2 separate regions of the Homo sapiens genome follow, and region 2 is linked to region 1. The links come from fine-mapping of genetic effects on gene expression. A gene starts in region 1. The other region holds a variant in brackets. All regions are shown on one strand. Distances are from middle to middle.

The links.
Region 2: its variant is fine-mapped to the expression of TMED6 in prostate (GTEx, PIP 0.92).

What each region holds. Positions count from the first base shown.
Region 1 is chr16:69,349,418-69,353,805 of GRCh38, forward strand. TMED6 (transmembrane p24 trafficking protein 6) reads right to left here and starts at 2,369. Exons shown (of 4, transcript NM_144676.4): 1 at 2,124-2,369; 2 at 108-234. The coding sequence starts at 2,336.
Region 2 is chr16:69,318,911-69,323,298 of GRCh38, forward strand. It overlaps VPS4A (vacuolar protein sorting 4 homolog A), which reads left to right. Exons shown (of 11, transcript NM_013245.3): 5 at 1-32; 6 at 477-633; 7 at 1,231-1,379; 8 at 1,778-1,859; 9 at 2,141-2,360; 10 at 3,650-3,790. Among named protein-coding and RNA genes, the nearest start is that of PDF, 9.5 kb to the right of the region's middle. The variant C/T (reference allele first, on the strand shown) is at 1,869.

The sequences.
Region 1 (4,388 bases):
CTGAATTTTTTTCCTACTGTTAAAACATCTCTGTATACTTCCTCATTATTTCTGTAATTTCATAGGACCCTATGATTATTATAATAGCCATGGTAATGAAAACAGACCTGTCTCTTGGGTAGAGAAGTTAATCTGGCCCCGAACACCCTGGGAGGTGTCTATGAGAAATCCCTGTGGGTTATGTGCCGTGGCAGCAACATGCCGGTCATGTGACATCCCCACTGTCCGCTGAACCTGCCAAGACACATTAAATAGGTAGCAGAACCCCTGCTACATCACGAGGAAGCCAGCTGAGTGGTAAGATTGACGTCCCACGGTCATCAGCACAGCGGTCTCTGTCTGGGGTGGGACTGCCCAACCCCCTGCTGGGGTTTGGAGTTGATTGGAGGATTCTGAGGTATCACAGTGATGGTGTTAAGGGGAGGCAGCACAGCATTGCTGAACGTCTGCAATGTAAGAAACAGTACAGCAGGACAAAGAACTGCCCAGAATGCCAACAGCACCCGTGTGAAGAAGACATGCCTTGCTCGGAACACACAGCTAGTGTGGATCCACTAAAATGTATGATTCTGGGCCGGGCGCGGTGGCTCACGCCTGTAATCCCAGCACTTTGGGAGGCCGAGGTGGGCAGATTACAAGGTCAGGAGTTCGAGACCAGCCTGGCTAACATGGTGAAACCCTGTCTCTACTTAAAAAATACAAAAATTAGCCTGGCATGGTGGCGTGCGCCTATAATCCCAGCTACTTTGGAGGCTGAGGCAGGAGAATTGCTTGAACCCGGGAGGCAGGGATTGCAGTGACTCGAGATCATGCCACTGCACTCCAGCCTGAGCGACAGAGCAACACTCTGTCAAAAAAAAAAAAAAAAAAGTACGATTCTGGCTGTAGAATTTTTTATTTTTTTTGAGACGGAGTCTTGCTCTGTCACCCAGGCTGGAGTGCAGTGATCTTGGCTCACTGCAACCTCCACCTCCCAGGTTCAAGCGATTCTCCTGCCTCAGCCACCCAAGTAGCTGGGATTACAGGCACATGCCACCAAGCCCGGCTAATTTTTGTATTTTTAGTAGAGATGCGTTTTCACCATATTGGCCAAGGTGGTCTCGAACTCCTGACCTCAGGTGATCCGCCTGCCTCAGCCTCCCAAAGTGCTGGGATGACAGATGTGAGCCACCGCACCCGGCCTGGCTGTAGAGTTCTTGAATGAACTTGCTTGGTGGTTGAGCTCCCCAATGATGTCCCAGATTTGGGCATTTGCTGCTTGGCAGTGCACACCTACAACAAGCACTCCATGGACACTTGCTCCCAAGCTAGATCTTGATTAGGCCAGGCCACAGTGAGCTTAGTAGTGGCTGCTGTTCTAATAGAAATTCAGAGGTAAGAAAAGTCTCTGATAAGTTTATTTAAAATAAATGTTGTTACAGTGGAGTAAGATCAACAAAGTCTATTACTATGTAAACAAAAATTAGAAAGTTAACCGATTTCTAAGATAAAGAACAAAGGAAATGAACAGCCTCTAACTTTCATACTGAGTTCACCATCCTTGGACAGCATGATATAAGACCATAGTATGGGTAAAAGTACTTGACCTTTGAATAAGTAACTTGAAAACACTTACCGTCCTAAAAAAAAAAAATAGGATTAACTGGCCGAATACAAAAAACTTGACCTAGTGAATCTCTGACTTGCCAGAATTGCTCCTAAAGGCAGCAGAACCTTTACTCCCCCACCCCATAAGCTGAAGCAGCCTTCTTTGAAATCTCTGGATCAGTCTCCAAAGCACCATTATCCAATTTTGTTTTAATATATTAAAAATGTATTCTCTCCCCTCTCATCCCCAAATCCGAGTACATGTAATGATTACCTCTTCAGGGAGAGGCACCCCGTCTGCCCCATGGCTTTGAGCATGGCCCCTGATGTAAGAAGCCAAACCATATGTTTTAGCTCCTGTTGGTGATTATTCACCCAGCTGGAGTTTCCCTCTAACTGCAGGTCCATTTCATTAACAGGTGGGGAATCACAGCATAATAAAGACAACCAGACCTTGTTTTGGCCTAAAACCTGACCCACTTTATGAGTAAAGGAGAAAAAAAAAAGCCCCCCAGTATGGCCAGTCACCCACATACCTCGTAACTGAAATAGAAGTATCCAGTCTGGTGGGCAAATTGCCAAAAGCATTCCGTGCCTCCTGGAGGTATCATGATGGCAAAGTCATATCGATCAGCTCCACGGAAGAGTGGCTGGTCCCCAGAGCCACTTAGAGGTTCTGTCTTCTGGCTCCTGGCAGACGTCACTAGATTCAGAACGACCAGCCCAGCCCCAAAGAGCAAAGGGGACATGCCGCTTTCTGGAGCCTCCTCTGCAGGTGAACTGCTCGCAGCCCAGGGAAATCAAGTCGTTCAGACAACCGCTGGGCTAATGATTAACTCCACAAGTCACATTACGGCCCATTTCAGGGCCACACATAGATATTCATCATAGAACTGCCATGATACTCCCATGTTTGGCTCGCAGGAGGAAATTTTGCTTTCACCTCAAAAACTCAGTGGCTTACCAAACCTACTTCATGGGTGCTACATAGAATCTACCACCTCAGAAGAGGTCTTTCCACCCTTCATTAGGGCTGTCATTTTTTAGTTCCTGCTTCTTGGGGATATAATAGTGGGTAAGTTTACAACTTCTGAATACACTGACAAAAAGTTGGCTGGGGGGATTGTTCTCTTACATCAAATTGCTCCTATAAACACATGGGGCAACACTTCTCTCTCCCCAATGCTGCAGCTCAGAGCAAATCACAGCATGTGTGTGCAAAGATGTAAATGGATGAATACAGTGCCAGAGGATGGTGCTTAGACCCCTCCACTGACAGTCCTCGTCCTGATGCCTTTCACCTAACGGTCACCTAAAGCTATCCAAACCCACTGAAAGACAATTATATTATCCAAAGCCTCAATCTTTTTTTTTTTTTTTTTTTTTTTTTCTGAGATGGAGCGTAGCTTTGTCACCCAGGCTGGAGTGCAGTGGCACGATCTCTGCTCGCTGCAACCTCCACCTCCCCGGTTCAAGCGATTCTCCTGCCTCAGCCTCCTGAGTAGCTGGAATTACAGGTGCCTGCCACCATGCCCGGCTAATTTTTGAATTTTTAGTAGAGACAGGGTTTTACTATGTTGGCCAGGCTGGTCTCGAACTCCTGACCTCAAGTAATCCACCCGCCTCGGCCTCCCAGAATGCTGGGATTACAGGCATGAGCCACCACGCCCAGCCTTGATCTTTCTTTTATTCAGGACTTCTTCAGCACCCATGGGGGAAAAAACTATCCAGAACCCACTTAAAGACAATTATATTATTCACATCCTTAATCTTTATTCTTTTATTCATGATTTCAACACCCACCTCCTTCATGGCAGGCACTGAGCTAAGATTTACCTGCATCTTATTTTATTCTCACAATAGCCCTGCAAGGGAGGTATTGTGAGCTCTGGCATTAGAGATGAGGACACAGACATTCAGAGATTCCAGTGGTGGCTCACGCTCCCACAAGCACACCTGGCAGAGCTGGGTCCCCGGTGGGGGCTCATGCTCTTAACCACCAGGCAGGACAGTGTTTCTCATTCTCAAGCTGTCAGTCTCTGAGTTCTGACACTGCCTAACCATTTTTCAGTCCTAATCTTTTTTTTTTTTTTTTTTTTTTGCTTCCTTGAGATGGTATCACTCTGTCTTCCAGGCTGGAGTGCAGTGGCACAAACATAGCTCACTGCAGCCTCACCCCCTTGGGCTCAAACGATCCTCCCACCTCAGCCTCCCAAGTAGCTGGACCCACAGGAGTGCACCACCACACCTGGCTGATTTTTGTATTGTTTGTAGAGATGAGGTTTTGCCATGTTGCCTAGGCTGGTCTCAAACTCCTGGGCTCAAGTGATCCCCATGCTTTGGCCTCCTGAAGTGCTAGGATTACAGGTGTGAGCCACCGTGCCTAGCCTTAGTCATAATCTTAAAAAACAAAAAACAAAACAGCATTAACACCTTCCAGCAATTATTTGCATTGACTCAAAGTGTCACAAGCTAAGTAGGCAGAAAACAGACTCTATACATGGGGTTCAGTTCTAGCAAAGGCCAAATGACAGCACAGCACTCTGGGAGCACAGTGGCTCTATGGCAGTCTTGCTCAAGTGACAGAAGAGTCTGGGAACTTCTATCAGCACACGTGGCACAGGCATCCCCCACCCGAGTCCCACCACCGTCGCAGTCCTAGCACTGGTCATGCCATAAGCAGTGACTTGGTTTCGGCGAAACAATCGTCAGTTCATAGTAAGTTTTATAGTTCTACAGAAGCTGTAAGCATAGTTTTATCTTTGCACACATTTCAATAACTATAATAAAAACAACACTGA
Region 2 (4,388 bases), 31 kb before region 1:
TTTGCCAATCAAATTCCCACACTTGTTCACAGGTGAGAGTTGAGCCATTTCAAACCCCAATGTAAAAATTCCAGGCTTCCGCAGGGCTGGCACTCCGAGGCACCCGGGAGTCAGTGGCGACTCAGCCCCCGGGGCCTGCAGAGGGCCAGGCCTGGCTGCTCGCTGGTGTCCACAACACTGCTGTGGCTGGAGCTATGAGATGACGATCACGTCACAGGGTGGGGGCAGGATCAGGAAGCAGTGCCAGCCGGTGTCACTGTGCAAGGTCATGGGGTCATAGCAGGGGCACTGTGCAAGGTCATGGGGTCATAGCACAGGGCACAGCAGGGAATGTAGCTCCCATCACTTGTTTGCCAGTAGAGTCCGTTGTTTCACAGAATGCCCTGTTTTACTGTATGTATGGGACTCGAGACCCTCTGCTTTTCCTATTCCTTTCCCCAGTCAGGAGGCCTAACTTCTGTGGTTCTCTGTTGCAGGCAAGCGCACCCCCTGGCGGGGGATTCTGCTGTTCGGACCCCCTGGCACAGGGAAATCCTACCTGGCCAAAGCCGTGGCAACAGAGGCCAACAACTCCACCTTCTTCTCTGTGTCCTCCTCAGATCTGATGTCCAAGTGGCTGGGGGAGAGTGAAAAGTAAGTCGGCCACCAGGCCATGCTCTGCCAGCAGCCCCGGCACTGCTAGTGACCCAGCGGCCCACCCTGTGGAGTCACCTCTCAGAGGAGTGGTTTGGTTTTCAGGGAGGGTACCCAAGAGCAGTGTGTCGCTAGCTTATCGGCTGGGACACAGTCCCAACAAAGACAAGTGAAGGTGGAAGGGACCTGGGAGAGGTGAAGTGCTCCACAAGAGAAGGGAAAGGAAGTGAGGATATTTTTGGGGTCTGGGTTGCGGTCCCTGTTGGGGCAGTGTGTGGGGGACATGGTTCCCCACACTGACTCCTGTTTTGCGTGTGATGAGACGGGCTCGGAAGAAGGGGACTGACGTGTTGTAAGTGCAGAGCTAGCGCATGGGGCTCCTGGGATTGAGGCTCTGCGTTTGGGGCTGACACCAAGGTGTGCTCCTCCTCTTGGTGCAGTGTGGCCCGAGGGCTCCTCACCACCACGTTTTCCGCAATTCCGGCATGACCGTGGCCTGCGCCTCCCTGTGGGAAGGGTGAGAAGAGGGAAGTGCCGGGAGCCCAGGCGGGCACGGACGTGAACGTCTTGTCCTCACCCCCTTTCTCACCTTCACAGGCTGGTCAAGAACCTGTTTGAGCTGGCCAGGCAGCACAAGCCCTCCATCATCTTCATCGATGAGGTGGATTCCCTCTGCGGGTCCCGAAATGAAAATGAGAGTGAGGCCGCCCGGAGGATCAAAACGGAGTTCTTGGTCCAGATGCAGGGTGTGTGCCGGGCCCAGGGCCCCCTTGGTTCTTGTTGCACCTGAAGCCAACCCTGGGCTTTATTCTGAGCTGCGGCTGGATTTGGTTGTTCTCAGCCTCGGAGAGGCACTCCCCAGCTCCAGCCCCTCAGGGCACGGGTGGACTTCAATTCCCAAGAGGTGCCTGAGGCCTCTGCCTCACGGGCCACTCCACCCCTCCCATGGCAGGCAGTGCCATAGGTCTCACCTGGCACAGCCAGACCAAGATGTGGTTTAATCTCACTTGGGACCCTGCCAGTGGTGGGTGGCACAGGGATGGCTTCAATTGCTGACACACAAAGCCCCCGGGGTCTGTCCCCAGGTTTCAACTGACCCGTGCAGGTGTCCAGAGTCTGAGTCTTTGTCTCCCTTTCTCCACAGGGGTGGGGAATAACAATGATGGGACTCTGGTTCTTGGAGCCACAAACATCCCATGGGTGTTGGATTCGGCCATCAGGAGGAGGTGAGTCTT[C/T]CCCAGGAGAAGCCAGGGCTGGAGGCTTCCTCCCACCATGGTCACGGTCCGCCTGCTGCTGGCAGCCCGGGTGCAGCCTGGCCCCTTTTCCCTGGAGTCTTCCCGTCTGCCTGCCAAGCAGAGCCCTTTGTGAGGCTGGCTTGTTGAGGATGTGCCGCCAGCATCACTGGCCCATGAAATGCGTCCGTTTCACTCAAATCTTCGTGCCTCCCCTTCCGTGAATACCATTCCATCATCCGCTGTCAACTCCTGCCGTGTGCTGGGCTCTCTAGGTTTGAAAAACGAATTTATATCCCCTTGCCGGAGGAAGCTGCCCGCGCCCAGATGTTCCGGTTGCATCTCGGGAGCACTCCCCACAACCTCACGGATGCAAACATCCACGAGCTGGCCCGGAAGACGGAAGGCTACTCGGGCGCGGACATCAGCATCATCGTGCGGGACTCTCTCATGCAGCCCGTGAGGAAGGTGCAGTCGGCCACACACTTCAAAAAGGTGAGTGCCCGCGGCCACTGCTGAGAAAAATCTCATAGTAAGAGCGGGATGTTCGGTTTTTTTTTTCCCAGCTCCTGGTCCTGCTCCCCGGCTGCTCAGGTGACACAGTCTCTGAGGCCTCCTGGAGAGCCGAGGGCCAGTGCCATGGGGGCTGCACCCACTGTCCCCTCCCTGCAGCTCTTCTGGAGTGTGGCCATCTCAGGGTGTGTGAAAGCAGAGGACAGGGCCACTTTACTGTCTTAACCCTGCTGCGGCCTCCTCCGTCAGCACTGTGTGCTCTTGTGCGGGGTGGACACCAAATCAGTGTTTGGAAAGTGTTGGATATAAAATGACCAGGAAGACCTGTCTATTCATTCAGCAGATCTCTGCTGAGTATTTGCTGTGGGTCCTCCTGTGTGCCCGGCCCTGTCCTAAGTGCTGGGAAGATATGAGTGACCAACAGACAAAAATCCTAGACCTTCCGTTGTTGGTGGGGAGACAGTCAACACAGTCAGTGAGTGTCTCAGAGGATGGAGATGGAGCAGGGTTAGGAGAGAGGTGTCTCGGGCATGGAGGGAAGGGCAGATGGCACTGGGGTGATGCCTGAGACAGGAGGTGAAGGTGTGAGGGAATGAGCCTTGTGGACATTGGGGGAATGTTTTGCCAAGGCAGCGGACTTCAGTTGGAAAACCACTTTGTGTTAATCTATTTTCATGCTGCTGATAAAGACATACCCGAGACTGGGAAGAAAAAGAGGTTTAATTGGCCTTACAGTTCCACATGGCTAGGGAGGCCTCAGAATCATGGTAGGAGACCAAAGGCACTTCTTACATGCTGGTGGCAAGAGAAAATGAAGAAACAAAAGTGGAAACCCCTGATAAACCCATCAGATCTCGTGAGACTTCACCATCACGAGAATAGCACGGGAAAGACCAGCCCCCATGATTCAGTTACCTCCCCCTGGGTCCCTCCCACAACATGTGGGAATTCTGGGAGATAGATACAGTTCAAGTTGAAATGTGGGTGGGGGCACAGCTAAACCATATCACACTTTTAATGTCACTGTATTCCTGGTGAGACGTGACAGTGTTAATGAGGAAGACATCAAGGCATTGGGGCTACAGATTGCCAGAGTCCCATGCAAATCATGAGTCGCTCGGACCACCCAGCCCGAGTTCTGAAGGAGCCCGTCCTCCTCAGATGCTAGGGACCCACAGAGCATTCTCTTTGGGACTTCCTTAGAGACCGGAGGGGTCGAGCCCCTCTGACACTGAGGGGCAGCTGCCCCAGTCAGATCCATTTGGTTTCAGGTCTGTGGCCCCTCTCGCACCAACCCCAGCATGATGATTGATGACCTCCTGACTCCATGCTCACCAGGGGACCCAGGAGCCATGGAGATGACTTGGATGGATGTCCCTGGGGACAAACTCTTAGAGCCTGTGGTTTGCATGGTAAGTGACTTGACAGGGGAGGGAAGAGGGCTGCACAGAGCCCAGAAAATTGAGGGTTTGGGTCCAGAATAAAAACGGTCTTCTCCAGGCCAGGCATGGTAGCTCACGCCTGTAATCCCAGCACTTTGGGAGGCCAGGGTGGGCAGATCACAAGGTTAGGAGTTCGAGACCAGCCTAGCCAATATGGAGAAACCCTGTCTCTACTAAAAATACAAAAATTAGCCGGGTGTGGTGGTGTGCACTTGTAGTCCCAGCTACTCAGGAGGCTGAGGCAGAAGGATCGCTTGAAGCCGGGAGGCAGAGGTTGCAGTGAGCAGAGATTGGGCCACTGCACTCCAGCCTGGGTGACAGAGTGAGACTCCGTCTCAAAAATAAAAAATAGTCTTCTTCTATGTCCTGGGCTGTTGAGAATGGCCTTTGTAGCTCAGGGAAGCTGGCATTACACTCACTGGGGGCCCAGAATGCAGGTGGCAGCATTAGCATTTTGTACATACAGAGAAAGGCTAGATGCAGTGGTGCAGTGATAGCTCACTGCAGGCTTGACCTCACGAGCTCACACAATCTTCTGACCTCAGCCTCCTGAGTAGCAACAGGCACA